Regions from separate parts of the Homo sapiens genome. Here region 2 is linked to region 1. Evidence: fine-mapped expression QTL. A gene starts in region 1. The other region holds a variant in brackets. All regions are shown on one strand. Distances are from middle to middle. Region 1 holds the start of MCM10 (minichromosome maintenance 10 replication initiation factor). Region 2 overlaps MCM10 (minichromosome maintenance 10 replication initiation factor).

Region 1 (15,513 bases):
AGAGTGGGCCAGCCACGGGGCCAAATGTCCTCAAGCATTCTACTCCAATCAATGAGACAGCTTCCCGCACACCGACTTCCATGAAATTCAACCAACAAGGGAATAATTTTAAAACACCAAACATAGATTTAGGCTTTAGATGTATATAATTCCTGACCTTCAAATTATTTGAGATTTAAAAAAAAAAAGATACAAACTATATAAAAAATACTAAGATCCCATCACCCAGAATTAGCCATCATTAACATTTTGTTGTTTGCTTCTTGCCTTTAACATTAAATAACACCTTCCAGATGAAGTCTGTCATGCCAAATCTTATCCCAACTCCTGACCACTGCCCCCACTTCCCATTGTAATCACTTTCATAATTTTGAGGCATCATTCCAGTCCATTCTTATGCTTTTACATAAATATATAGGCAGTCATAGTCAATCTATATTAGATGGTTTTAAAAATATTTACATAAATATTCCACACTGCATTACTCTGCATTCCAGGTTCATTCAACATTGCTTGTAAGATTAACCCAAATCAAAACATATAGTTCTAGCCAGGCGTGGTGGCTCACGCCTGTAATCCCAGCACTTGGGGAGGCCAAGGCAGGAGGATCACCTGACATCAGGAGCTCAAGACCAGCCTGGCCAAGAAAGTGAAACCCCGTCTCTACTAATAATACAAAAATTAGCTGGGCGTGGTGGCCCGTGCCTGTAATCCCAGCTATTCAGGAGGCTGAGGCAGAAGAATTGATGGAACCTGGGAGGTGGAGGTTGCAGTGAGCCGAGATCGCACCACTGCACTCCAGCCTGGGTGACAGGGCGAGACTCCATCTCAAAAACAAACAAAAAACCCCATATAGTTCTAGTTTCTTTCTTTTCGTTGCTATATTGTATCCTATAATAAGACTGTATCACACCTCATTAATCCATTTTCCAATAAAGGACAATATGGGCTATTTCTAATTTTTCCCCACTACTAAATACGCTGTAATCGTGTATCCGTCTTCTCGCACATGTGTTTCTTGGGAATATCTATCAGAAATGGAATTGCTGGATTGCTGGGTATCCACGTTTTCCAATTTTGCTAGATGCTGCCAAATTGTTCTCAAAGTGGATGCACTCTTGAAATGGCATAGTTCGTCTGGGGTAATACCTGAGGTTCGTTGTCTCATGCAAAGGAAATCAAGGATGCTGACACACAAGGAGTGAGGTTAAGTGCAGAGATTTAATAGGCAAAAGAAAGAGAAGAGCTCTCGGCAGCAGAGAGGTCCCAGAGAAATGGGTTGCCGCGTCCATGGCAAAATGCATGGGGTTTCATAGACGAGCTTGAGGACGCAATGTCTGATTTACACAGGACATAAAAGATTGGCTGGACTAGGTATGCCATTTGCATAGGGTGGAAAACCTGGCTGCCCCACCCTAATCTTTTATTATGCAGGTGGTTCTCTACCTGGCCAGCGCCATATTGTCTGTTTCTTTACTGTACACGTGGTTGACACAGAAAAAGGGCCGCCATGTTGAACACGCCTGGCCCCCAGGGAGCCTTTTCCTATTGGCACAGCTGCAGGTATTCATCCGTGCAAATTACTAGCTTGCTTTTCTATGTCCGCTTGATTTTTCTGGCTGGCCTTGTTAGAAATTACTTGGGGGCTGCTTTTTGCTAAAAGGGAAATTCTGCTGAGGACTCTGTTGCCCTTACTATCTCCCTAAATAATTGCTATCATCTGTATCACTCTCACTAGAGCTGTACACAAGGGCCACTTCTCCCCACCACCTCATCAATATCTGATGTGTCACTTAAATATTTTTTTGTCAATCTGATGGACGATTTAAAAAGGCATCTCACTGTTTTGATTTGCATTTCTTGGATTACTGGTGAGGTTAAGAATTGTTTGTTTATTTGCCAATCGGATTTCTTCTTTCTTGATTTATCTATTTTCTTTGCTCTTTTTTCCCCCCTATTTGGGCACTATTTGTTTATAAAATCAGAGGTATTCAATGGAAAAATATTAAGGATATCTGACCTACTCTCCTTGTCTGAAATTCAGGGGCTAGAGTATGAGAGGGTGAGGGGCTTGTTCAGGATCACATGGAGAAACAGATCAGTTCAGGAGCTGGGTTAATAAGGAATCTCTAGATCAGCAAACCAATATCCTTTCCACCACTCTACACTCCCTTACCAGAAGGAAAAAGCCAGTAGCCAAACTTCAGGCCTAGAATCTGATGATGGGGCCTAATGCTCAGTCAGAGGTTGTATAAGGATTAGCTTGAGTTGCTTAGTCCACAAAGACTCCAAGGCTGCACAGTGCAAGAGAGAAGAGGCCAGGCAGCCCCCTGTGCTCTGAGAATGTCACATGCCTGCAAGGAAGCAAAGAGGCCTCCACCATCTCTTGTTCCCGTCTGCCAAAGAGGGCACACCCCGGGAAGAGGCTCTGGCTCACACCACTGGGGGCCACAGGTGGAAAATGCTGCCTGGGGACCCCATACTATTCACTTTGAACCCTTCACAAGAGAACGAGGGCTAATCCCATGGTGCCTCACAACCCCGTTTACCTCAGTCACCACCAAAAATCATGTCTTCTCTGTATTACGCTGACTCAATCTCCCAGCCTCTTTGTTCTCAAACCCCTGGGATGTGAAATCTACTATCAGCACGTTTCTCGGATCCCCAGTGGCTCTTACAACAGAAATCTGGCTACCCCTGGAAGCCTCTTGAATGGAAAGCATTTAATTGTTCACACCTCACATGGCAATGTCTAGAATAGTGTTCGGCACGTATTAGGCATGCAACAAATACTTGTTGATCAACTTCAGGTTCCTGATGTCTTCTTTATCACTGTCACTTTGGAATGATTCAGTCTTTTTCCAGATCACAGCTCTCTGAAGTTCAAGACACCAGACGCTGGCATCAAGAACCCCTCATGGCACTGTCATGTGCTGATCATCATATGTGTATCATGCATGCCCCCCCCGGTCCTCCCCTCCATCTCTACTGTTATCACCCTCCTGGGGCACTTCAACCTCCGCAAGGATGATCCAGCCAACATCTTGGTCGCTGGGTTTCTCATCCACTCCCCATCTTAGCTACCCACTCCCATAGTAACTCCAACTCATCACAGCAAAGCACAACTGACCTCTGAACGTCCCTCTGTGATCCAACCTCCCATCCTTTCAGCCCGCTCACTCTAGTATTCACATCCAGCAGCTCTTCAGCTTCATCCACATGTCTAACCCATCAGCCTACCTACAATGTGTTTCCTGTCCATCACCCCCTGCCCCTAATGCCCTCCCTGTGGATCCATGTTCAACACCATCATCACTCACTGCCTTCTAAAGACTCAGCTCCCTGGCTGGTGAATGGTCCTGGAGAAAGACTCGCTACCATGCTGACTGGTCTTTTTTGTTTGTTTATTTATTTATTTATTTTTCAAGACAGGGTCACACAGGCTGGAGTGCAGTGTTGCAATCTTAGCTCACTATAGCCTCAAACTCCTGGGCTCAAGCGATCCTCTTGCCTTAGCCTCCCAAGCAGCAGGGACTAGAGGTGCACACCACCATGCCCAGCTTATTAAATATTTTTTTGTAGAAATGGGGTCTTGCCATGTTGCCCAGTCTCGTCTTGAACTCCTGGCCTCAAGCGATGCTCCTGCCTTGGCTTCCTAAAGTGCTGGGACTACAGGTATGATCAACAAGACCCTGCCTCAGTCTAACTTTAAATTTTTGCACACCCATAACAAACAAGCATTCAGCACTGCTTAAAGATTCCCACACTTCCTCAATTCATTCGCTTTCCCAGGCTCTGACCACTTCACACTGTCTCTCCTCAAACCTCCTATGCCCACTCCCCACTCTTTACTCTTAGCTGATGATATATATATATATATATATATATATATGTATGTATGTATTTTTTTTTTTTTTTGAGACAGAGTTTTGCTCTTGTTGCCCAGGCTGGAGTGCAATGGCACGATCTCGGCTCACTGCAACCTTCACCTCCCAGGTTCAAGTGATTCTCCTGCCTCAGCCTCCCGAGTAGCTGGGATTACAGGCATGTGCCACCACGCCCAGCTAATTTTGTATTTTCAGTAGAGATGGGGTTTCTCCATGTTGGTCAGGCTGGTCTCGAACTCCTGACCTCAGGTGATCCACCTGCCTTGGCCTTTCAACGTGCTGGGATTACAGGCGTGAGCCACAGCGCCCAGCCCTTGGCTTATATTTTACAGAAAAAATAGATGTAATCAGACTTCCTCATCCTTCACTCCCAACTCTGAACGTATCTTCTCTGCTTTCCCTCCTGGGACTAAGTATCTAGTGCTATTCACAGCCAATTCTTCCACTTACATTCTTACATTGGGTCCCACTTCTCAGCTTCTCAAAGACTTCATTCTACAATTACCACCTCTCTGGCTCCTGAATCCCCAGTTTCTCCCTCTCCTCTGAAGCACTCCTGTCAGCATACAAAGACATAGCAGTGTCTCCCATCTACTAACTACCCGTTTATTGTTTTGTTATCTTTCTCCCTCCACTAAAATATAAGCAGGAACATTGTTCAACAGTATATCCCAAGTACCATACAGTCTCCGATTTCCTCTACACCGGCCAAATTGTGAACCCATGCCAATCAAATGAGATTTTCTTACTAAATATTATGATTTCTTTTTCCTCTTTTTTTTTTTTTTTTTCAGATGGAGTCTTGCTCTGTCACCCAGGCTGGAGGTGCAGTAGTGGGATCTCGATGCAATGCAACCTCTGCCTCCCAGATTCAAGTGATCCTCCAGCCTCAGCCTCCTGAGTAGCTGGGATTACAGTCACATGCCACCACACCAGGTTAATTTTTGTAGTTTTAGTAGAAATGGGGTTTCACTATGTTAGCCGGGCTGGCCTCGAACTCCTGACCTCAGGTGATCCACCCACCTTGGCCTCCCAAAGTGCTGGGATTACAGGCATGAGCCACCGCACCCAGCCTAAACATTATGATTTCTTCTTTCTTGACCTATACTGTTTCCAGATAGATACTATGATTTCTTAGAGAACAGGTATCCATTCACCTCTTATTTTCATGTCAATCTGATAGCAAAAAGTGATGCTTTGTATTATATAACCTGCCCTGTAGGCAATTTGCCAATTTTAAGAAACAGGAAACTACCATGATAGCATCAGGCAATGAGTTTCACATAAGGAATAACCCCTTATCTGAGGGTTTATTTTCTGTGGTTTTGATTTTCCATGGTCACTGTGGTTGAGGACAGTACAATGGATATTTTGAGAGTGCAATAGATACTTTAGAGAGAGACCACATTCACATAACTTTTATTACAGTATATTGTCATAATTGTTCCATTTTATTATTGTTGTTCATCTCTCACTGTGCCTAATTCATAAATTATACTTTATCACACGTATGTATGTACAGGAAAAAACACAGCATGCCTAGGGTTTGGTACCATCCTGGGTTTCAGGCATCTGCTGGGAGTGTGGAAACACATCTCTCAGGGACAACGGGGGTCCACTGTGCATCACAGTGTGAGGAATTTCAAGTTTTGTTTTAAAGGGCAAAGTGTAATATGTTTGAATTTTTTAAAAAAACCCAGTTTCAGATTATGAGTTCAATTATGCAACTAGATCTCTTCACAACCAGCACAATCATTTTAATTTTTTAAAAATAGAAATGAGGTCTCACTCTATTGCCCAGGCTGGTCTTGAACTCTTGGGCTCAAGCAATCCTCCCACCCCGGCCTCCCAAAGTGTTGAGATCACAGGCGTGAGCCACTGCGTCCAGCCCAGCACAATCATTTTAGGTGATCGCTAATTAGTGCAACATCTCTTTTCTAGGTAAACATTTTGTACACATCCTTGCAAAATGAACAAAATTAGAAAGGATGATATTAATAAAAACTTAAGTCAGAGCTAGACTAATATCGCTTCAGCAGATTTCATTATCAAATGTAAACTCTGAAGTCAGACTGCCTGGTTCAAAGCCCTGCTATGCCAGCTTGAACTGTGACAAGTTACTAAACATCCCTGTTTTTCTGCCTATAAAATACGTTTGCCTGAGGACTGAATCAGTTAATTTCCACAAGGATCTTGGAGCAGTGCCTGGCCCACTGTACACCTACCAGCTATTGTAATTATGAAAGACAATCTCTGTTGCCAGAAGAAATCTCCCCTGATAAAAGCAAGTAACATTCAGTGACCTCTGTGAGATGTGAGATTGCTTCAGAACCACTAAGACAATACCTGAGGGCTGGGGAGCATTTTCACCATTTTACAGGTAGAATAAATAACAAGTCCATGGACAAAAGGTTAGTTTTCCTTGAAACAGAGTAACAGAAAACTGCCAGGTCTTACCATCCATGCTGTCAAGAGGACAGTTGTGACAGGAAACTTCGAAGGAGGCTCAGATGCCCAGATGAGCAATGTAGAATCTTGGCTGTGTGAAAGCAATATTAGAAATGTCACTTTCAATTCTTCTCTTTCTCTCACAACACACATCCAACAAACCCAGAATCCTACCACTCCTATGGGCTCTAACCTCAGAATTCATCCAGAATCTGACCATTTCTCACCTCCTCTCTCCACACCGCCAATGCCATCTCCTTCCTTGGATGTAGCAGCTCACTTTTACTTGTGTTTAAGGTTACAGAAAGTTATTGAGCTGCAGAGCAGTTTGTAAATCACACTAGATTACGTGGATGAGATAAATTATGAGGAAGAACTATTGGGGTTGGCTAGGTACAGTGGCTCAACGCCTGTAATACCAGCACTTTGGGAAGCTAAGGTGGGCGCATCACTTGAGGCCAGAAGTTTGAGACCAGCCTGGTCACATAGCAAGACCTTGTCTTTTTTAAAAATTACACACACACACACACAAATTATTGGGGTCGATCTACATTAGGCTATTCTTTCATTTTATTCACTGTAATACACCTGACATCTGCGTTATCCACGACAGCTTACTGTATGATTCTACTTAGGTGGAGCCTTAGTGACAATCAGGATTTTGATTCAATACTAGTCAGCAAAGCACAGAGAAACAGCGTAGCTAATTAAGACAAAGTTGTATCACTTTGTGCACTTCTCTTTTCATTTAAGGTTATTTTTTAAACTGCAAGTAAGAAAGTATACATTTTTCTAGGCTCTTATTTAACTTACATGTGCTCTTTGGCAAGTTCAATGTCAAGGAACTAATTACAGTGATTATGGTACTTTCTTTTCTTTTTTTAGACAGGATCTCGCTCTGTCGCTGGGGCTGGAGTGCAGTGGTGCTATTGGCTCACTACAACCTCCGCCTCCCAGGCTCCAGTGATTCTCCTGCCCCAGCCTCCCAAGTAGCTGGGATTACAAACGTGCACTACCACACCCGGCTAATTTTTGTGTTTTTTGTAGAGACAGGGTTTCGCCATGTTGCCCAGGCTGGTCTTGAACTCCTGATGTCAAGTGATCCATCAGCCTTGGACTCCCAAAGGTGCTTTTTTTTTTTTTTGAGACGGAGTCTCTGTCACCCAGGCTGGAGTGCAATGGGGCGATCTTGGCTCACTGCAAGCTCCGCCTCCCGGGTTCACGCCATTCTCCTGCCTCAGCCTCCCGAGTAGCTGGGACTACAGGCGCCCGCCACCACGCCCGGCTAATTTTTTGTATTTTTAGTAGAGATGGGGTTTCACCGTATTAGCCAGGATGGTCTCGATCTCCTGACCTGGTGATCCGTCCGCCTTGGCCTCCCAAAGCGCTGGGATTACAGGCGTGAGCCACCGCGCCTGGCCGCTTTTTAAAAATTCATTCAACCAACATTTCCACGGATCCCTCATGTGCCACACACTGTGCTATCTACTGGGGAACCTATTGGACAGTAAGCTTCCTGAGCGTTAGGAGCAAACTGTCTCGTTCAAGTCTGTAACCGGCCTTGCCTTCCCCCAAAATGAAACTGTGCACCCTCCCTCGCCCTCAAATCCACGGCCACTGACAAGTACTGTGGTCCCATCTCCAAAACACTGCTCAAATCTGCCACTTCTCTCCAACTTCACTGCCAGAACCCTAGGCCAAGCCACCGTCAACCTTTAACCCAATGACTGTGTTAGCTTTCTATGTTGGTCTCTTTGTCCCCGTGCAATCTGTTCTGCATACGACAGCCACGGTAATCTTCCCTTTCCTTAGTAACCTTTAGGAACATAAATCAGATCATGGGGGTCCCTTCATTGAAATTCTTTAATGATTTTCCATTGCCCTTAGAAAAAATCTACAAAGCCTGCGAGGCAATGATTCATATTCTCTCTCTCTTTCCAAGCTTTCTACTCCCTCACATTTTCCACAATCCACCACGTCCAATTCTACCCACCCCGACACCCATAACGATGCTCCAGCCGGGCCAGCCCGCTTCCACCTTCTGGAACACACTAAGCTGCTTTGAGGTCTCAGGCTCTGTCGAAGAAAGCTCCCCCCAGGTCCTTCTCGCCCTTCGGTCTCCACTTACTCATCTTTCTGAGACTTTCTGGACCACCCTGAGTCGTCCACTGTCGTGCATTTGTTTACTACCTGCTCGTGCCTTTAAACTGTAAGCGCTGTGAAGGCAGCGGAAATGTGATCCGAGCCATGCACACCGTCCGCATTCAATAATCATTGGCAAATCATGAATACGAGAAACCAATGAATGAATGAATGAATGAATGAATAAAAGAAAGCCCAGGCGGCAGGCACTTGGCAAGCACTTAAAAGGCTGCGTTTAAAAGGAAGAACCCGATTCCTTAGTAGACGGCCAGCAACTCCCAGCCCCCGGCCCGGCCATGCCAGCTCCGAGCGGTCCCAAGCTGCCGCCAAATCCAGATCGCGCCCACCCGAGCTCCCGGGACCCCGCGCCTCTAGCCTCGGACCCCTTGCAACCCGCGCAGAGACGTGCGAGGCGGCCCCGGCCCCGCCGCCCGAGGGTCACACGCACGCCCGGGGCCCGCGCTCCTCACCCGATGCCGGGACGCCTTCTTCGTTCACAGCTGAACCCGCCAAAATTCCAACCGGATCCCGCCCCTGCCTTGACGTCAGACGCACGCGGCTGTGGGGCAGCACTGACTGGCTACGCCAGCGAATCCCGGCCCTGGCACAGAGCAATCGGATTGGTTTACGTCATTGGACGCCCTCTTTGTTGGGGGCAAGGGACCTTCCTGTCGGTAGAAGCCAGTCTCCTTTAGGTAAAATAGAGTGTCTGGCGCCCCCTGGTGCCGGGAAGTTTAAGTCATCCCACCCAGTATTTTCCCTGCGGTCCCATCCCACCTCAACTCCTGACGCTCTGGGACCGACTGTTCCTTTGTCAGCCTTATGTCCATTCGAAATGTTTGGGCTCAGGACCAAACAGATCCGGTCCACTTTTACCCTGTCTGACCTTGGGGAAGTGACTTATCTCTCTGAGTTTCCCCTTCACCATCTGTGCAGTGAGGGAAAGGGTAGATGACATCTTTTACACTGAAACCACCATTTCCCGAGTAATTCCTGTTCCATAGATTTTGGGACTTCTAAGGGGCGTCAGGGCTGAAGAGAACTTATCAGCAGACCATATCTTTCACAGATTTTTTTTTCAGTAAAATTCAGGCCTCTTTATGTATTTACATTCTAAAAAATAGTGTTTGTACATAATACTAAGAACATAGTTTCTAAATGCAGAATAACATTTAGCTTTTACATAATTTCAAGGGATTGATAGCAGAAGAGACTTTGATGGACCAAATGGCCACTTTAAGTCTTTCCCCCCTTTTCCTCCTTGCAGACACTGTTCAGGCACTGCAGTTCCCCCACTAATAATCCCTTTGGTATAAGATCCTATCTCTATCCACTACGTACTTTCATTTTCAGAACAATTAAAATCGACTTTAGGAAGACTGAAGATAAACAGTCCTGATGCCATCTACGTTGACTTTTTTCTGTGTCCTAATGGAATATTACTGCTCCATTTATGAGCTCAGCCCTATTACTTAAACCTATATTGGCTCAGGAATAGGAATACAACCATTTCTGAGAGCTGCTAGTGTTAAAAATTCATAGTAATGGAGGAACTCTAGTAATCAAATTGAAAAAGTATGTTTAAATGCGTACTTTTAAACATACGGCACTAAGGCCGGGCACGGTGGCTCACCCCTGTAATCCCAGCACTTTGGGAGGCCGAGGTGGGTGGATCACGAGGTTAGGAGTTCGAGACCAGCCTGGCCAACATGGTGAAACCCCATCTCTACTAAAAACACACACAACACAAAAATTAGCTGGGCGTAGTGGTGCGCGTCTGTAATCCCAGCTACTTGGGAGGCTGAGGCGGAGAATCGCTTGAACCTGGGAGGTGGCGATTGCAGTGATGAGCCGAGATCTCGCCACTGCACTCCAGCCTGGCGACAGAGCCAGACTCTGTCTAAATAAATAAATAAATAAATAAATAAATAAATAAATAAATGCATCACTACATCTAGTTATTAAAAAAAAAAGATTCGTCATAGATTTATTCTTAGCCATTATGCAGAAATTCCTTGACTAATTCTGATCAGTACTCTGAAGTTCTTTTCTTCACCTTCACTTTCCAGGTCCTCTTTGCATCCAGTTCCGGGCAAGGAGTCAGAAACAGAACCAACCTAAGCCCGCAAACCTTCCTTAAGTGAAGAATCAAGCACTTTTTATTGGAATTAGTATAGTGGTGACTTTGAGAAAAGAAGTGGAGGTGATTTTGAGAAACAATTAGGCAAATAGATTTTTTAAAATCCATTGAATGTGGCTTTTCCGTGCCGATAGCGCTCACACAAACATTACGAAGTTTCCTAAAACCCGCCAGACTTTCTATAAGAAGTGTGGCAAGCACCAACCCCACAAAGTGACACTGTACACGAAGGAGAAGGATTCTCTGTATGCCCAGGGAAAGCGGCGTTATGACAGGAAGCAGAGTGGCTATCGTGGGCAAATTAAGCCGATTTTCCAGGAAAGGGCTAAAACTACAGAAAATTGTGCCAAGGCTTGAGTGCGTTGAGCCCAGCTGCAGCTCTAAGAGAGTGCTGGCTATTAAAATATGCTAGCATTTTGAACTGGGAGGAGGTAAGAAGAGAAACGGCCAAGTGATCCAGTTCTAAGTGTCATGTTTTCTTTTATTATGAAGACAATAAAATCTTGAGTTTATATTTTTAAAACATCCATTGAATGTGGAGATATTAGCGAGAAGGAAGCAGAGAGGGGATGGGGAGACAGGTTTAGGATGACTGTTAGGTTTCTGATTTATACAATAGGGTCGTTTTTGAGGTTGTGCACTGAAGTAGGAGACATAGGAAGAACGGAACAGGTTTAGGGGAGAAGATAGATTTAGTTTTCTATTTCAGAATGAGATGTATGAGAGATGCTGATTAAGAAAGGCACGGTAGCCAGCTTGATCTCCAGATCTGGGGTTCTAAGGAGAGGCCTGGACTCTCCTTAGAATACAAACGAAGGCCAAAAAAGAACAGCTCTGACAGTTATCAACATCTATCTAAAATGAAATCTAAAGCAAACAGCCCATATTGCAGTGGTCCTTAACCTTTTTTGGGCGGTAGGAGGATGTTTATCACAGACCCCTTTAATGTATTAAAAGTGGGCCGGGCACGGTGGCTCATGTCTGTAATCCCAGGACTTTGGGAGGCCGAAGCTGGCAGATCACCTGAGGTCAGGAGTTCGAGACCAGTCTGGCCAACATGGTGAAACCTCATCTCTACTAAAAAAAATGCAAAAATGAACCGGAAGTATTGGCGCATGCTTGTAATCCCAGCTACGCGGGAGGCTGAGGCAGTAGAATCGCTTGAACCCGGAAGACGGAGGTTGCAGTGGGCCGAGATCGGCCACTGCACTCCAGCCTAGGCAACAAGAGCAAAACTCCGCCTCAAAAAAACAAAAAACAAAAAAAAACACAAAAAGTCCAAGCCGAGCCCTTCCTGCTCCCTCTAGGAATCAAAATGGCGGCGAGGGAAAACTGGAGCAGTCCCGGAGCCTGAGCCACTGACAGGAGAGGAGAGGGCGGCGGCGGCGGTGGGAGGAGGATGGCGGCGGTGTGCTGGCGCCGGTGCCTGCCGCGGTGCTGGTGGCGGAGGCGGCGGGGGCGACGGCCGAGGTCCCTGCGGCAGCAGCAGCAGCGGCGGCGGGAGGAGCCTCCAGGTCGATTGAACTGTGGATGAGGAACCTACGGAATACGAAGGGCAGACTGTATAGTAAACACTTGAGGATGCTTGCTGTGTGGTTCTTACAGAATGCACTGTCCGTGTGTCTGGCTGCCCACAGCCTTTCATACTTCAATAGTATGCACTAAAGTAAGGTCTAATGGCCCTGTTCTCATAGAAATAGATGGAAAGAGGCTGCTGGATCCAGGGTTGAAGGTTCCTAATGGCCTCTAGGATTATACTCTGAAGAACCCGCAGACGGAATGCCTGAATGACTGAAGAAAATGGGTGCTAATGCATCTCATTATCCTCATCCATGTTCCGCGAAGGTAGGGGGAAATTCACAGGCCCAACAGACTTTTATAGGGACGTCATCCTATTCTCAGCAAGGCTATGGTTGTGAATCAAAATTGTATAGCCTTGACCATGGCCATGAGAAACCACAAGACAAAAAAAAGAGGCCGGGCACGGTGGCTCACGCCTGTAATCCCAGCACTTTGGGAGGCCGAGACGGGCGGATCACGACGTCAGGAGATCGAGACCATCCTGGCTAATATGGTGAAACCCTGTCTCTACTAAAAAATACAAAAAATTAGCCGGGCGTGGTGGCGGGCGCCTGTAGTCCCAGCTACTCGGGAGGCTGAGGCAGGAGAATGGCGGGAACCTGGGAGGCAGAGCTTGCAGTGAGCCGAGATCGAGCCACTGCACTCCAGCCTGGGCGACAAAGCCAGACTGTCTCAAAAAAAAAAAAAAAAAAAAAAAAAAAAAAAGACCTCTGGCCCTGCTACCTTCAAAAAGAACTTAATTAAGCCTCGAAAATCTGATAGGTCTGCCGATCATGCCAAGCAGATGCGAGAACTCCTCTCTGGGTGGGATATTAGAGATGTCAATGCATTAGCGGAGGAATATGAGGGAAGGTCAGCATTAAAGAAGCTTTCCCTACAAGCCAGTTTGGCTAGACCGGAAGCCCGGACATTGCAGAAAGATATGGCTGATCTTTATGAGTACAAGTATCGTACTGATACAGATTTCATATTTCAAGAAACTTGTTATCCTGTTCATCGTGCCATTTTGGCAGCAAGGTGTCCATTTTTTAAATGCTTTCTTCCTCACCTGAGTATGGGGCAGAGATAATAATGGACATCAATACAGCTGGTATTGATATGCCCATGTTTTCTGCTTTGTTATACTATCTTTATACAGGAGAGTTTGGAATGGAAGACTCAGGGTTTCAAAATGTCGTTATCCTTGTTCAGCTTAGTGAAGAATTCCCTTGATGTAGATATGCGTGGACTCTTTGATTACATGTGTTATTACGATGTCGTCCTTAGCTTTTCTTCAGACTCTGAACTGGTTGAAGCTTTTGGTGGACATCAGAACTGTTTAGATGAAGAGCTCAAAGCCCACAAGGCTGTTATTTCTGCACGGTCCCCATTTTTTCAAAATTTATTACAAAGGAGAATACCAACTGTTGAAGAAATCACAGATGGAACTTTGAGGACTCCCACAAGAATTATATTAGATGAGTCCATTATACCACAAAAATATGCAAAAGTGATATTACACTGTATGTATACCGACGCGGTGGACCTCTCTGTTTGGCACTGTAGCCCCTCTGTGGGGAGTCTCAGTGAAGTTCAGGCTCTCGTCGCAGGGAAGCCAAACATGACCAGGGCAGGAAAAGCCATGGAACTTTACCACACAGCACCGTTCTTGGAATTTAACATGCTTGCACAAGGTATGAAGTTCTGATTTTAAATTTTGATTTCTAGAATTATGTATTTATCTTCCAAACTGAAAATACAACTAGCATAGTCTATGATTTCAGTGTTTGGGATGTTACAGGGTCAGTTTTTTTGAACCTTCAGTTATGACATCTGAGACAGATTGAGCATCAGTATTAATGTGGTTCTTTACTATGAAAATCAAGCACTCAATACTATAAAATATTTTATATATCTATCTCTATATATATCTCTATCTATATCTATATATAGATAGATAAATTTATATATATCTATATATCTTTTTTATTTTATTATTATTATACTTTAAGTTTTAGGGTACATGTGCACAACGTGCAGGTTTGTTACATATGTACACATGTGCCATGTTGGTGTGCTGCACCCATTAACTCGTCATTTAGCATTAGGTATATCTCCTAATGCTATCCCTCCCCCGTCCCCCCTCCCCCAACCCCACAACATTCCTGGTGTGTGATGCTCCCCTTCCTGTGTCCATGTGTTCTCATTGTTCAATTCCCACCTATGAGTGAGAACATGTGGTGTTTGGTTTTTTGTCCTTGGGATAGTTTGCTGAGAATGATGGTTTCCAATTTCATCCATGTCCCTACAAAGGACATGATCTCATCATTTTTTATGGCTGCATAGTATTCCATGGTGTATATGTGCCACATTTTCTTAATCCAGACTATCGTTGTTGGACATTTAGGTTGGTTCCAAGTCTTTGCTATTGTGAATAGTGCCGCTATAAACATACGTGTACATGTGTCTTTATAGCAGCATGATTTATAATCCTTCAGGTATATACCCAGTAATGGGATGGCTGGGTCAAATGGTATTTCTAATTCTAGATCCCTGAGGAATCGCCACACTGACTTCCACAATGGTTGAACTAGTTTACAGTCCCACCAACAGTGTAAAAGTGTTCCTATTTCTCCACATCCTCTCCAACACCTGTTGTTTCATGACTTTTTAATGATTGCCATTCTAACTGGTGTGAGATGGTATCTCATTGTGGTTTTGATTTGCATTTCTCTGATGGCCAGTGATGATGAGCATTTTTTCATGTGTTTTTTGGCTGCATAAATGTCTTCTTTTGAGAAGTGTCTGTTCATATCCTTTGCCCACTTTTTGATGGGGTTGTTTGTTTTTTTCTTGTAAATTTGTTTGAGTTCATTGTAGATTCTGGATATTAGCCCTTTGTCAGATGAGTAGGTTGCAAAAATTTTCTCCCATTCTGTAGGTTGCCTGTTCACTCTGATGGTAGTTTCTTTTGCTGTGCAGAAGCTCTTTAGTTTAATTAGATCCCATTTGTCAATTTTGGCTTTTGTTGCCATTGCTTTTGGTGTTTTAGACATGAAGTCCTTGCCCATGCCTGTGTCCTGAATGGTATTGCCTAGGTTTTCTTCTAGGGTTTTTATGGTTTTAGGTCTAACATGTAAGTCTTTAATCCATCTTGAATTAATTTTTGTATAAGGTGTAAGGAAGGGATCCAGTTTCAGCTTTCTACATATGGCTAGCCAGTTTTCCCAGCACCATTTATTAAATAGGGAATCCTTTCCCCATTGCTTGCTTTTGTCAGGTTTGTCAAAGATCAGATAGTTGTAGATACGCGGCATTATTTCTGAGGGCTCTGTT
Region 2 (15,513 bases), 26 kb before region 1:
GGGGACTGAGATGGGAGGATCACCTGAGCCCAGGGAGATGGAGGTTTCAGTGAGCTGTGATTGCACCACTGTACACCAGCCTGGGAGACAGAGTGAGACCCTGTCTCAAAACAAACACACAAAAAAAGAGAAGGAAATGATGATATAGCATTGACCTACCTTTGAAGGTCATGGTTGTATGGATGAAATAAGATAATATCTGCAAAGTATGAATCTTTACATAGCAAATACATTCCTGGCCGGGCGCAGTGGCTCATGCCTGTAATCCCAGCACTTTGGGAGGCTGAGGCAGGTGGATCACTTGAGGTCAGGAGTTCGAAACCAGCCTGGCCAACATGGTGAAACCCTGTCTCTTCTAAAAATACAAAAATTAGTCAGGCATGGTGGTGGGCACCTGTAATCCCAGCAATTCGGGAGGCTGAGGCAAGAGAATTGATTGAACCCAGGAGGCAGAGGATGCAGTGAGGCGAGATCGGACTACTGTATTCCAGCCTGGGTGACAGAGCGAGACTCCATCTCAAAAAATATATATATAAATAAATAAATAAACATAGTAAATACATGGCACACACATATCACAAGTACTGAGTAATATGGACATGTGCCATGGTTATTGTAGGTATTCCTGTTGTTATTATTATAGGTAAGGTTTTGGCATACAGCAAGCTTTGCCCTTCATTTGGCTGCAGCTGCTAACTTAAGGGAAGAGAGAGGCTCGATTGGGGCACTCAGGAAGTGGGCAGGTGGGGCTCTGGGTGCCCTACCCCTACTTCAGCCGCAGCAACTCAGCTTTCACCTGTCATGGGACTGGACTTTTGTGTAAGATTTCTTTTAAAGGATTCTTGGTTAGGCACAGTGGCTCATGCCTGTAGTCCCAGCACTTTGGGAGGCTGAGGTGGGACTGCTTGAGTCCAGGAGTGCAAGACCAGCTTGGGCAGCAAAGGGAGGCCCCCATCTCTACAAAAAATACAAAAATTAGCCAAGGCGTGGTGGCATGTGCCTGCAGTCCCAGCTACTACTTGGGAGGCTGAGGCAGGTGGATGAATCGATCCTGGGAGGTTGAGGCTGCAGTGAACCATAATTGCACCACTGCACTCTAGCATGGGTGACAGGGGGATAGTCTGTCTCAACAAATAAAAAATAAAACCGCCAGGCATGGTGGCTCACACCTATAATCCTAGTACTTTGGGAGGCCGAGGTGGACAGATCATTTGAGGTCAGGAGTTCGAGACCAGCCTGGCCAACATGGTGAAACCATGTCTCTACTAAAAATTAGCCGGGCGTGGTGGTAGGCGCCTGTAGTCCCAGGTACTCGGGAGGCTGAAGCAGGACAATCGCTTGAATCTGGGAGGAGGAGGTTGCAGTGAGCCGAGATTGCGCCACTGCACTCCAGTCTGGGTGACAGAGTGAGACTCCTTCTCAAAAAATAAATAAATAAATAAATAAATAAATAAATAAATAAATAAACGTAAAAAAAGGATTCCTTAAACCACCATTTTACAGTCTCACCTCAACAATTCCAAGCATTGTTTTCCTACTGTCAATGCCTCTGGTTATAAAACACTATCTTCCTCTAGGCTACCTCTTGTAGCCTGACAAGAAAAAGTGTTGAGATAACAGATCTAACTTTCTTTTAGTATTATGTTGACACTACCATGTTTTCAAATTACACTGACTCTAATGATCACGATCAATAAAGAGCTATTAGGTGTCTGTCTTTCCTCCAGCTCTGCTCTACAGAATGCAAACTCAAGTGCTAAAGAGAAGAGATGCCAGTTACCTTTTTGGCTTCTGCTAAAGCACTCAGTTTTGGTCTTGGTGGTGGTGACTCATCATAAAAGAGAACATCATCTCCTTCCAAGACACCTCGCCCCAGCTTGGGCGTCATTGTGGCCGGGGCTCCCTCCAGCCTGGGGAACTCGGATCCTGTCCGTGGAGGCTGAGCAGGGGGCTGTCTTGATGAAGATGGCACAGCTGGGCTCTCAACTTCACTTGAGCTCTGCAGAAATCTTTAAAGAACATACAGTCAAAATACGCAAACAGGGTTTACGAAAATAAAAACTCTAGAACTCAAAGTGGACTGGGAGGCGGCAGGCAGGCCACCAGTTGGGAGCTAGTTGTTAGCAAAATAATGTCCCCTTCTAGGCTGGTAATTCAAATTTGCACACGATAAGAACAATACTAGCTTTACTAACTCCTCCTTAATTGAGTTTTCTTTGAATAAGCTGTAATTGTCCTAACACTTTAGAACTGATAACTGTTTTTATCAATTGGCTGTCCAGTGGATGTCATCCACAAGGAACACAGCTGAAGACGCGGTGTGAACTGTATTCCCACCCCTACCGTCAGCTCTAGGGCCTGTAGGAACTCATTGCACCTCCCTGCATCTTTGTTTATGCTACTGGGAAGAGACAATACATGTGAGACATTTGGAAGTCATTAATGAAAAACACTGTAACTTGCAGCGATTATTTTACATCCCCTTTCTTTTTTTTGATTTTTTTGAGACAGAGTCTCGCTGTGTCACCCAGGCTGGAGTGCAGTGGCATGATCTTGGCTCACTGCAACCTCTGCCTCCCAGGTTCAAGTGATTCTCGTGCCTCAGCCTCCCAAGTGTTGGGATTATAGGCGTGAGCTATCATGCCTGGCAAAAAATAGTTTTAAGAGCTATTTTACTTTTGTTTTTGGAGACAGGGTCTTGCTTTGTCACCCAGACTAGAGTGCGTTGGCACGATTGCGGCTCGCTGCCACCTCTGCCTCCCAGGCTCAGGTGATCCTCCCACCTCAGCCTCCCGAGTAGCTGGGTCCACAGTGTGCACCACCATGCCCAGCTAATCTTTGTACTGTTTGTAGAGACAGGATTTCGCCATTTTGCTCAGGTTGGTCTCAAACTCCTGGGCTCAGGCGATCTGCCTGCCTCGGCCTCCCAAAGTGCTAGGATTACAGACATAAGCCACCAAGCCAGCCTCATAAGAGATATTTAAAAACAAATAACAAACCCCAGAAATCATCTAGTCCAAACTTCTCATTTGATCGATGAAGAAACTGAGGCCTAGGATCACATTACTCACAAGGGCCAGACTCAGGATTAGAGCCAGGCCATCCCAGAGCAGTACTCTTCCCAACCGCACAGCCACTCTTGCAAGCTCTAGGCTGTGTTTGCAAACTGCCTATCAAATCCTACGCAAAGATAAGGTTTCCTTGGCCAACAAAATTCTGAAAATTTTCATTACGCAATGCCTTCAAGCTGATGGGCATTCTCTATTTCCCACGAGGCCCCCAACTCCATACATATTTCTGTGTCCACGTATATAATTTATGTCATCTGTAGGCTCAAGATGAATAGCTCTATAGATATCCCACCGGCACTTCAAACTAATCTGCCTGAGACCAAACCCATTCTCTTACTTTCCCAAAGAATTTCCTCTTGTCTTATCATTGACTCCCTTTCATGGATGTGGTTGCCTTTCAGCAGCCCAGATTCGGGATGGCAAAAGGTTCAGCACCAGAGCACAACATGTGTGAGCCCAAAACTCGGCCCCACCATAAACTAGCTCTCTGATCTCCAGGCACACTATTAGTAAAACAAGGCTGAGAAGCCTCCGGAGGCTCAGATACTGTGTTTATGGAGTACGTATGAAGTGCCTGTGAACCGCAGCTCTCATTAGTATTCAGGTGACCTGAGTTCAGGAATCATTCATTTGTCCACCTACCCTATGCATTTCCACTTGATTTTTTTTTTTTTTAATTATTGGCTGAAGCCAAGTAACACATTTCCACTTGCTTTTGCCTCTAAAATGACTCTCCATTTTTAGTGCTTCAGTTTTGTCCTTTATCCAAAGAACTGTATTCTACTCACTGGCTCTGCCTGTCATAAAAAACTGAATTGCGGCAAAACCCAGAAATGGCAGCCAGGCAAATCCAGGCTTGCGTCCAGGAATTTGAGACCAGCTTGGGCAATATGGCAAAACCCAGTCTCTATAAAAAAATACAAAAATTAGCCAAGCATAGTGGCACATGCCTGTAGTCCCAACTACTTGGGAGGCCAAGGCAGGAGGATCATTTGAGCCTGGGACATGGAGGTTGCAGTGAGCCGACACTGCAGCATTGCACTTCAGCTGGGGTGACAGAGTGAAAACCCGTCTCAGAAAAAAAAAAGAGAGAGAGAGAGAAAATGACAGCCAGCATGTGAACCTACGCTCTCCCCCTTCACAAAAACCCTCTTTACATACACTTCACTCCTTTCCCTTTTCCATGGTGATAACGACTCTAACCTGTACCATTTGGTGTTGGGAGTCACCAGTGTAAGAAATAATACAGCCTTAAATGCTATTCAGGTTATGGGAAAACTATTTTAAACTTTCAGAGTTAAAACGCAGCCAACCGAAACCTGAAGTCACATTCTGGAAATCGATGAAGACGTTCTGAGGACGCCTGAGATGGATGACCCAAGCGGGGAATATTAAATCTGCTCCTCTTACCGCTTCTGTATTTCTTCTGATTTCCTTCTCCTCATCTCCAACATCCGCTGCTTCTGTTGCTTCAAGAGTGCTGAGGCCGAGATGGACTTGATGGCTGGTTTTGGGCTCCCCATAATCCCTGAAACAGAAGCCCAGACTGAGGGGGTGCCCTGGGAGGCTGAGGGAACACAGGGACACACGTGTGGCCATGCAGCTGATGGTACCTGAAGCTGTGGCTTTGGCTAAATGTTGTTTTAAGTTCCTGGCTCCACACGTCGGCAGGTCCATCAGTTCCTTGAACTCCTCAGAGCAAGACAGGCTCTTCTGGGGTATTCCTGTGCCAGGTCAACACCAGCTTTAGAGGATTCACATTCAGATGGTTTGAGGTCATATGACATACCACTTTCTAAACTCTGCACTTGTAATTTTAGTCATACGTAAACGAAGAAGACGGAATCCCAAGAGGAAAGAAAAGAATCCTTAACCTCTATCATCAGACTCATAGGATGGCAGGGTATCTCGACTATATTTTATTTCTAGTAATGATTAGAATATTAAGCCCTTAAATCTGGGGGTCATTCCATACCCTGTTTCTGGAATATCCGCTAAGGATAAGGGTCCCTGACCACAAGCCCAGGATGGGGGCTGCATTCTCTGATCAAGACTTGTTTTTATTTGTTTTTATTTTATTAAAAATTTTTTTGTTTTTATGACCAAGACCCATTTTAACAAAAGATAACCAATAAGCTTGGCCAGGAAGATAATACTGCTGATTCTAATGCTGGATGTAAAGAGTTGGACCCAGATACACCAAGAAATTTTAAAAAGCATACTAAGGTAAGACATAGCTAAAATCAATATGCTGTTTTTTTCCTTAAGGTCCTGCAAACCTGGCTTGATTCCTTTAGGTTAGACCGCGCCACTCACTAAGTACAGGTGATGACTGGATTCTTATTACTTAAGAGTATGAGCTGTATCCATTTTCAACCCTAAAGACTGCTTGCTTGCTTGCTTGCTTGCTTGCTTATTTATTTATTTTTGTGCATGAATAAGTTCTTAGTGGTGATTTCTGAGATTTTGGTGTACCCATCACCGGAGCAGTGTACCCTGTACCCAATGTGTAGTCTTTTATCCCTAAGGCTGCATAATTAAACTGGAGAAAGAAATTTCTTATGGAAAAACAAAGTTACCGAGTTTTTGCCGTGTTTCCTGGATGATCAAGTTTGTGCCCTTAACAACCAGATTACTCAGAGTGGTTTGAATCTTCTTCTTAGGAGCCACAGCTGCTGCACTGAAATGACAAGTCACCCCCAAAAGGAGAATCACTAAAGCCTCAATGCTCTGATGAGGTAAAGAAGGCATAGATATCATCATTTATTACACACACCGTCAAAGTTTCTCAAAACACCATCTAAGTAGGCTTTCTTAATGTTACGGCCCAATAGCATAACTGGTTTATGCACTGTGTCACAGAGGAAAAGCTAGAGGCAGCCTACAAATCCACTTGAGGCCATTCTGGAAGGAAATTTGGCAAAAGAAATAAAAAAAAAGCCAATGCTTTGATCCAGCAGTCTGGATATTTATCTTAAAATAATTAAGGATTATGCAAAAATTTAGGATATTAATGGCAGCTTTGTTTATAATGTCATACATTGGAAACACCATTAACGTTCACCCACAGGGAATTGTTTAAATGAATTAAGGCAGAGTATGCAAAAGAACACTATGTAGCCACTGAAAATACATGAGAAAAACATTAATTATTTTACACTGGAAAAAAAGTGGATACAAAGAATAGGAACAATATGATCTCATTTTATATTACTAAAAATGTACACATATGAAGAAACACAACACCTAGGAGTATATATACCAAGGAACTAACAGTTTGGGGTTTTTTTTTTGAGACAAGATCTCACTCTGTTGTCCAGCCTGGAGTACAGTGGAGCAATCCTGACTCACTGCAGCCTCAACTTCCCCAGGCTCAAGCAATTCTCCCATCTCAGCCTCCCAAACAGCTGGGACTACAGGCATGTGCCACCATGCCCAGCTAATTTTTTTTGCATTTTGTAGAGATGGGGTTTTGCCATGTCGCTCAGGCGGGTCTCAAATTCCTGGGCTTAAGCAATCCTCCTGCCTTGGCCTCCCGAAGTGCTGGGATTACAGGTGTAAGCCACTGTGCCTGGCCTAGAACTAACAGTTTTTCAGGTGATAGGATTATAGTTGGTTTTTATTTTCTCCATTGGTTGGATTGTATGTTCTTTTAAAAGACTAATATACATGTATTGTTTTAGCAGATTGGAAAAATTCAGAAATAATTTTAAATCTCAAAAACATGCTTACTGTTAAAAAAGAAACAGGAAATGAGTCCTCTTGCCCCATTCCTGCTGGATTGGGAACAAAAATCTATGTTTTATTCTTGGACCAACTGTAGCTGCCTCGTGCCAAGTCCTCAGATATGCTTTATATAATGTAGTGACGAGGCCACTGATTACAAGCTTATCCAAACCATAGCCTGCGGGCCACATGCAGCCCAGGATGGCTTTGAATGCGGCCCAACACAAATTCATAAACTTTCTTAAAACATTAAGAGATTTTTCTTTTCTTTTCTTTCTTTTTTTAAGCTTATAGGCTATCATTAATATATTTTATGTGTAGTCCAAGACAATTCTTCCAAAGGGGCCCAGGGAAGCCAAAAGATTGGACACCCCTGGATTACAGCGTCAGGGGCTGTAGTGACTCTGAACCCCCAGGCAAGGGGCCATGGATGCCTGCCCAGCATCGCCCCACTCCCCATGTGAAGCTTCATAGTATATTCACTCACTGAATGAAATTTGGGTTCCATGAGGTCTGTAGCCTCACTCATATAGTCATACGAGAAATAATTAAAAGGGTGTTAACACTGTAATTAACACATTTTTAATGGCCCTGATGAAGGTGCACTATTCACATTAGAAGTCAAAGAGGGGCTGGGAGCAGTGGCTCATGCCTGTAATCCCAGCACTTTGGGAGGCCGAGGCAGGCAGATCACCTGAGGTCAGGATTTCGAGACCAGCCTGGCCATCATGGTGAAACCCTGTCTGTACCAAAAATGCAAAAATTAGCTGGGCGTGGTGGCACGCGCCTGTAGTCCCAGCTACTCAGGAGGCTGAGGCAGAAGAATCACCTAAACCCAGGACTTGGAGGTTGCAGTGAGCTGAGACTGCACCACTGCACTCCAGCCTGGGTGATAGAGTAAGACTCCGTCTCAAAAAAAAAAAAAAAAGTTGAAGAGGAAGAGTGGGCTCTCTTAAAGTCCAACACAACATAAGTCAATCTCTCTCTCTCCTGAAAGTTTTTCTCTCTACCTGGGAATAAAAGCGGTCTTTAACCAACTTGTTTCAAGTAGTGAGTTATGAAAGATAAAACCTGTACAAGTATCCTATGACGGTTACAGGAAGGTACAACCAGTAGGTTTAGTCTTTGATAAGCAAAATCCTCTGCCCAAAAGAAGCCCGAGAACGTCTTACATTGAAGCTGCATACGAGGCAGAAGAAACCCCTCCGTAGTAAAAGCCATCTTGGCACAGCCGTTCTTTGAGGCTGGTGCCTCTGCGGGCAAACTTCTTTGGAATTCGTCCTCCAGAGAAGGTGGACTGCAGATCCGCACGCTTTGCGCTGAGCTTCTTGTACTGAGCCTGGACATGGTACTGACAGTACTCACAGTCACGCTGCAAAAGGCAGAGCAGTGGCATCAGGATGAGGGCAACAGGC[T/C]GGGAAACAGCAGTGAGCAGACACAGTTCCTTCTCCCCACTTCCCGGAACATGACGCATGCAGAGTCCTCCCTGCTGACCTCCACGACCGTTCCCAATGTGGAAGGGCTGCTCAGTCCCTGAGGGGAAGAAGTTCTTCCCTTCGAGTCCCCTGAAAGCACTGTTCTGGTGAAATACCCCTTGCCCTCTTTCTACAAAGGAAATCAGCTTTTAGGATGAACCTTGAAAACAAGTTAGGTGAAAGAAGTCAGACACACAAGGTCCTATGTTATTTAATATAGGACCTATGTTATTTAATATAAAAGGAAGTTTTTATAGAAGAGGCAAATCCATAGAGACAGAAAGCAGATTAGACGTCACCAGGAGACGGAGGGAGTGGGGATGGGAGTGATGACTTTATGGTGCCATTGTTTTTACAGGGTGATGGAATTCTGAAACCAGGGAGCTGGTGGTTACACAACTAAATATCACTGAATTATATATGTATTTTAAAATGATTAACTGTATATTGTGAATTTTGACCCAATAAAAAATAATTTAAAAACAAAATCAGCTCCCAGCGAGGTTTTTCTAGCTGTTTCTCTGGTTGATCCTCGGACAAGTGCTATCCTTTCAGTGAAAGAAACAAAGAGAGATGGTGCAGCATTGTTCTGCTGGGTGAACAGTAGTTACGGCGACAATGGATTTTTTTTTGGAGACAGAGTCTCGCTCTGTCACCCAGGCTGGAGTGCAGTGGCGTGATCCTGGCCCACTGCAACCTCCAACTCCTAGGTTCAAGTGATTCTTCTGCCTCAGCCTCCCAAGTAGCTGGGATTACAGGTGTGCACAACCACGCCCAGCTAATTTTTGTATTTTTACTGGAGACGGGGTTTTACCATGTTGGCCAGGCTGGTCTTGAACTCCTGGCCTCAAGTGATCGGCCCACTTCGGCCACCCAAAGTGCAGGGATTACAAGTGTGAGCCACCGCCCCATCCAGACAATGGATTTTTAAGAATCTAATTCTCACGGGGAGATCTGTTGGGTACTTCACTCTGAAACCTCATTTTCCAACCGTCTCCCACCTTATTCTTTCCTGTCCACCAATTAATCTAATAGGAAGGAATAAGGGAATAAAAAAAGATTAAACCAAAACCTGTCATTTAATCCTTTCAAAGAACTCTAAGAAGTACCTCTTCACACCTACTACAATGGCTATAACAAAAAAGAAATAGAGTAACAGGTGCTGATGAGGACAGGGAGAAACTGGAAAGTTCATCCATTGCTGGTGGGCCACTTGGGAAACCAGTCTGGCAGTTCCTCCAAACTCTGGACAGTTACCATGTTGACCCAGCAATCCCACTCCCAGGTATATGCCCAAGGGAGTGGAAAACATACATCCACATAAAAACTTGTATGTGAGTGTTTTAGCAGCATTATTCATAATAGCTAAATGTGGCAACAACCCAAGCGTGTATCAACTGATGAAAGAATAAACAACGTATGGTATATCCATACAATGGAATATTATTTACCCACAAAAAGGAATAAAGTGTTGATAAATGCTACAGCACGGATCAATTGTGAGAAAAATTATGCTAAGCAAAAGAAGCCAGACAGAAAAGGCCACATATTGTGATTCCATTATATGAAATGTCTAGAAGAGGCAAATCCATAGAGACAGAAAGTAGGTTAGTGCTTACCAGGGGCTGGGGGAGAGGAGACTGGGGAGTGATTGCTAGTGGGTACTGGGTTTCTTTCTGGGGCAATGAAAGGGTTCTGAAATTACACAGTGGTGATGGTTGCACAGCTCTGTGAATGTACTAGAAATTACTGAATTGTTGACTTTATTTATTTATATTCTTTTTTGGAGACAGAATCTCACTCTATCGCCCAGGCTGGAGTATAATAGTGCGATCTCAGCTCACTGAAACCTCTGCCTTCCAGGTTCAAGTGATTCTCTGGCCTCAGCCTCCTGAGTAGCTGGAACTACAGGCGCCCACCACCATGACCGCCTAATTTTTGTATTTTTAGTAGAGATGGGGTTTCACCATGGTGGCCAGGCTAGTCTCAAACTCCTGATCTCAGATGATCTGTCCGCCTCGACCTCCCGAAGTGCTGAGATTACAAGAGTGAGCCACCACACCTGGCCTGAATTGCTTACTTTAAAAGGGTGAATTGCATGGTATGTGAATTATACCTAAATGAAGCTATTATTTTTTAAAAAGCCCTAAGAAAAGGTATAATGGAGTTAAAATATAGGCTAAAATACAATTTTCATTGTATTTCATCATGTTTGCTCTGTGGAATTACAAGAATTAAAGGCAAACAAAAATTCTGTCTTAAACTTCTTGGTCAGATAAAAGATCACTTTCCTAAGAGGTTAAATCCCCTCACCTTTCCCCTGCCCTCACTTTTTTAAACTGGCAGTTATTAACCACACATTAAATTTTCTCATTTTGACTCTTCCTTTAAGTGGGAAACTCAGTTCCAAACTGGTCATCACAGCTAAAGCACCAACAGTTTATTCCTAACTGTTCTTTTCTTTAGCAGAAACCATCCTAACAAGGCTGAAACCAACCAAATTCACAGTCTGCGTGCACGGCTCTCCATTCTTCTTCTTGGCTTTACAGGTTCCCAGGTCAAGAGCTTCACCCATAATTAAGACCTTCTGAGGATGATCGATAGATAAACACACCTGTAAGAAAAGGTGGGGCAGGAGTTAAAGGCGGACAAAATTATGGCCTTTTATTAGCAGGAATAGAAAAAAGAATGGTTGGTGCTGATTTAAGAAGGTTATTGCCAGGCGCAGTGGCTCACACCTATAATCCTAGCACTCTGGGAGGCCGAGGCAGGTGGATCGCTTGAGGCCAAGAGTTTGAGACTAGCCTAGGCAATGTGGCAAAACCCTGTCTCTACAAAAAACCACAAAAATTAGCCAGGCATGGTAGTGCGTGCATGTAGTCCCAGTTACTTGGGGGGCTGAAGTGGGAGGATCACTAGAGCTTGGGAAGTCCAGGCTGAAATGAGCTGTGATCACACCACTGCACTCCAGCCTGGGCAACAGAGTGAGGCCGTCTCAAAAAGGAGAGAGGTTTTAGTGGTCTAAAGGAATTTGAAGCCAGGGCTCTATAACCGTTTTAGGAACAGGGATGCAGAAGGCACCTTCAGTTCTTTTCCCATTTTCCATCCTTTCCTTCATCTTTGCGATTGGAATCCTGATTTTCTCTAGGCTGGCTGACTTCTCAGCCTCAGGTCATAGATCCTGTTCCCTGTTCTCCCAGCACTCCTTAGAGCTAGCATTGGTTATGTGATAAGTTCTAGATGCTCAGACATAAACAGGAGTTGGTAGGGAAGCTTCTGCTTTCCTGACAAAATGAGTTAGGAGGCTGGCTCCCCCTTCCTCTTCACTTCTTGCCTTGAATGGAGATGACTGGAGGGAGACAAGTCCCTCAAGGGCCTTGCTGAACTCAGCTCTCTCCCTTCTTGTTTGCAATTCTCTTCTTGGACAGACTGTACCAAGAGGGACTGTCCTGAATAGCTCGGGCTTTGTCCTCACCCCTCCTAGGACAAGATCTCTTACAACACTTGAGCTCAATAAGCCAAGTAGCCTCCAGGTTATAAAACCCAGATCAGGGTGCTTTCATAATCCCTCCGCTGCAGGGTGAAGAGAGCCATGAGCAGACAGGACTCTGCCTGCCTGGAGTGCCTTGACTGAGTCTTGGTGGACTGGCTCAACCCAGATCCTAGGCTTCTGTGGAGTCTCGCTGCCTAAGGTGCTTTGCCCAATTTGTGTGTGCTTTGTCTCCCGGATGCATACTCCTGTAGGCAGGCTTGTGCAAAGCTGCTGGTAGCTTGGTTTATGCTGAACCACTGGCAGCTGGGTTTGTACAAAGCTTCCAGCCAGATCTGGGAACCTACCAGATCTGGAAATAGTAGAAATTGGCAAGGTGTTTAGAGCCCTCCCACAGGACTGGTAAACAGTGCATGGTATTCCTCTCCAAGAAACTGGCACCCTTCCACGGTATGCCAATTCACAGTGATGGCTAGAGTTTCAAAGGCATCTTGTGACCAGGAGAGAAAGGCTGAGACTCACAGAGATGTCACTCTTAAATCACTATAGTGTTTAAATCTGAATTTTTTTAATATGTAAGAAAAATAAGCCCCACTGTTTATTGTTGAAAAGAAACTATACTTAAGTTTGTTTGTTACTTGCAGCCAAACACATTCCTAACCAATAGAGGAAGATTTGTTGCCATTCTCTGGTGAAAGCAAGGAATGAGATAACATTTTTCTCACTTCTCTTGAAAATAATAATCTGACTACAACAGAGTAAAGCTCCATGCTGGGTCAGAGTAGAGAAACTGCCAGTTGCTATTCACACTGTGTCTAGATTTGCAATTTCCTAGAGAAGCAGTAGGTAGTGCCAAAACTCTAGTATTTGAGAAGATGAAAATTCACTTTGATTTTAAACTGCAGCTATGGTTGTCACAGTCAACGGAGCAAAATCCCCTCAACTATAAAACACTGCTTTCTTGATGCCACCATAAAAATTTATATAAGGAATCATGCTGGGCACGGTGGCTCACACTTGTAATCCTAGTACTTTGGGAGGCCGAGGCGGGTAGATCACTTGAGCCCAGGGGTTCGAGACAAACCTGGGCAACATAGTGAAACCCTGTCTCTACAAAAAACACAAAAATAGGCTGGGCGTGGTGGCTCATGGCTGTAATCCCAGCACTTTAAGAGGCTGAGGCAGGTGGATCACCTGAGGTCAGGAGTTCAAAACCAGCCTGGCCAACATGGTAAAACTCGTCTCTAATAAAAATGCAAAAAAAATTAGCTAGGCATGGTGGCACATGCCTGTAATCCCAGCTGCTGAGGGTGAGGCAGGAGAACCACTTGAACCTGGGAGGTATAGGTTGAAGTGAGTCAAGATCACGCCATTGCACTCCAGCCTAGGCAACAAGAGCGAAACTCCATCACATACACACAAAAAAACCACAAAAATTAGCAGAGCATGGTGGCATGCACCTGTAGTTCCAGCTACTCAGGAGGCAGAAGTGGAAGTATCACTTACGCCCAGGAGACGGAGTTTGCAATGAGTCAAGAACACATGACTGTACTCCAGCCCGGGCAACAGAGCAAGACTCACTTTCAAAAAAAAAAAGAAGGTATGAATCCAAGGAAACCTGAGTACAATAGTTCAAAAACTCCAGGAACTTTGTAACTAATTTGAAAAGATGGAATAAAAGTAGTTGTTACAAAACACTTTAGAATAGGTGGAAATTCAGAATACTGATGGGTAATGAATGAACAAAAAATGAAAAGCCAGATTCACGGAGACACAATCACATAAAAGCATGACTTATTTTCTGGAGGTAGACTAATACAAACTTTTTTCTTTTCTTGTCTTTTTTTTTGAGATGGGGTCTTACTTTGTTACCTAGGTTGGAGTGCAGTGGCACAATCAGGGCTCACTACAGCCTCAACCTCCCACCGCAGCCTCCTGAATAGATGGAACTACAGTTGTGTGCCCCCACTCACAGCCAGTTTTTACATTTTTTGTAGAGATGGGGTTCTCACTATGTTGCCCAGGCTGGTCTTGAACTCCTGGGCTCAAGTGATCCTCCCGCTTTGGCCTCCCCAAAGTGTTAGGATTACAGGTGTGAGCCACTGTGTGCTGCATCAAACATCTTTGATAAAACTCAGTTAACTTGTAAAGACAATCATCAATCAAATCCCAGAAACAGGCTCTTACCTCCTCTGAACCATCCTTGGGCTTCATGGGGTTGGCATTGAGGATCCCTACGACAGTCCCCTGCTCCGTCTTCCAGAGCGCTTTGTGAACTTCTCCAAATAAGAACAAGGACACACATTGTGTCAGGTCACGAAGATCATTCAGTTTCCATATGCTGAAGGTTTTTCCCTGGAACAAATAGTTATTTTTTATAATTTTGAACTGTAGGTTATGCCGTCCTCATTTATGATTCAAGAGTTTTACTATGGAAAACTATATGCCTATAATCCATAAAATCCAAGTTTTTTTGTTGTTATTCAAATATGTATCATCAGCATGTGTGATAACTTTAACCCATTCTCTAGGCTTTTGCATTCTATTACCCTTCTCATTTTAGAGATGAAAGTGAAATAAAGCAAGCCAGTGGCAAACTTGTTAGCAGAGTCTCTAGTTATCTCGGGTCTAAGCAGAGGGAGTGGGATAGCACTGCCTTTCTAATGACACAGAGACACACACACACATCATTAAAAGGACAGTGGAAGGTATGACAGTACCATTTAATAACTTACTGATATGAATCAATATTAGGTAAATGAGTAAATCTATTCCATATCATTGGTTAATTATATGATGATTATTATTTTTAGAGACAGAGTCTTGCTCTGTCATCCAGGTTGGAGTGCAGTGGTGCAATCATGTCCCGTTGCTCACTCCAACTCCTGGGCTCAAAGAATCCTCCATCCTCAGCCTCCCAAGCAGCTGGGACTACAGGCATGTGCTACCAGCCCCAGCTAATTTTTTTTTTCTTTTCATAGAGATGAGGTCTCACTATGTTGCCCAGACTGGTCATGAATTCCTGGGCTCAAGTGATCCTCCCACCCCATCCTCTCAAAGCGTTAGGGTTACAGACGTGAGCCACCAAGCCTAGCCTAAGTCTATTATTAATATGAAAAAAGAAGTTTCCTTTCTAGGCTATTACATCTCTGCTTAGCTTACAAAAGCATCATTTCAAGAAAACTGGTTGAGTTTAACCTTAACATTTCAGAAGTATGATTAAGTATCTGAAGAAATACAGCTCAAAATGCTGACCGATTATAATGTGAAAAACCTCCACTTTTACGGTTGTTTTTAAAACCAGAATACTGTGAATAATCTTGACTTGCACTATCTCACAGAGGCATCCCGGGCTGGGGATGGTTATGGGTTACAGCATGGAATCTACTGCCCGGACGCTGAGCTGGAATCCATCTTCCAGGGATTTGTGCAGTGCCTGTCTTGGAAGAGTTCAGATAAATTCTCGTGTCTATTATTATTATGTCATTACAGCCACTTATGAAGTAACTAAGAATTTGATCAAAGGAAAACCAGACCTGTCCACATTTACCTCAACAGTGACAGGGCTAGTGTAAGACCGGGTAATCTTTAATTTTTTAAAATTTTTTTAAGTTCTGGGGTACATGTGCAGGATGTGCAGGTTTGTTACATAGGTAAACGTGTGTCATGATGGTTTGCTGCACCTACTAACCCATCACATAGGTATAAAGCCTGCCATGCATTAGCTCTTTTCCCTAATGCTCTCCCCCTC

Evidence for each region.
Region 2: its variant is fine-mapped to the expression of MCM10 in visceral fat (GTEx, PIP above 0.99). The same link has a PIP of 0.9 or more in breast, subcutaneous fat, thyroid and tibial nerve.

Annotation. Positions count from the first base shown.
Region 1 is chr10:13,155,041-13,170,553 of GRCh38, reverse strand. It overlaps MCM10 (minichromosome maintenance 10 replication initiation factor), which reads right to left and starts at 8,996. Exons shown (of 20, transcript NM_018518.5): 1 at 8,948-8,996; 2 at 6,345-6,426. The coding sequence starts at 6,351. It also overlaps the pseudogene BTBD7P1 and the pseudogene RPL36AP36. RefSeq lists silencers at 8,732-8,911, 8,934-9,247.
Region 2 is chr10:13,181,537-13,197,049 of GRCh38, reverse strand. MCM10 (minichromosome maintenance 10 replication initiation factor) reads right to left here. Exons shown (of 20, transcript NM_018518.5): 8 at 13,950-14,117; 9 at 10,770-10,886; 10 at 7,970-8,169; 11 at 5,651-5,751; 12 at 4,685-4,795; 13 at 4,482-4,599; 14 at 1,781-2,009. Among named protein-coding and RNA genes, the nearest start is that of MCM10, 28 kb to the right of the region's middle. The variant T/C (reference allele first, on the strand shown) is at 8,213.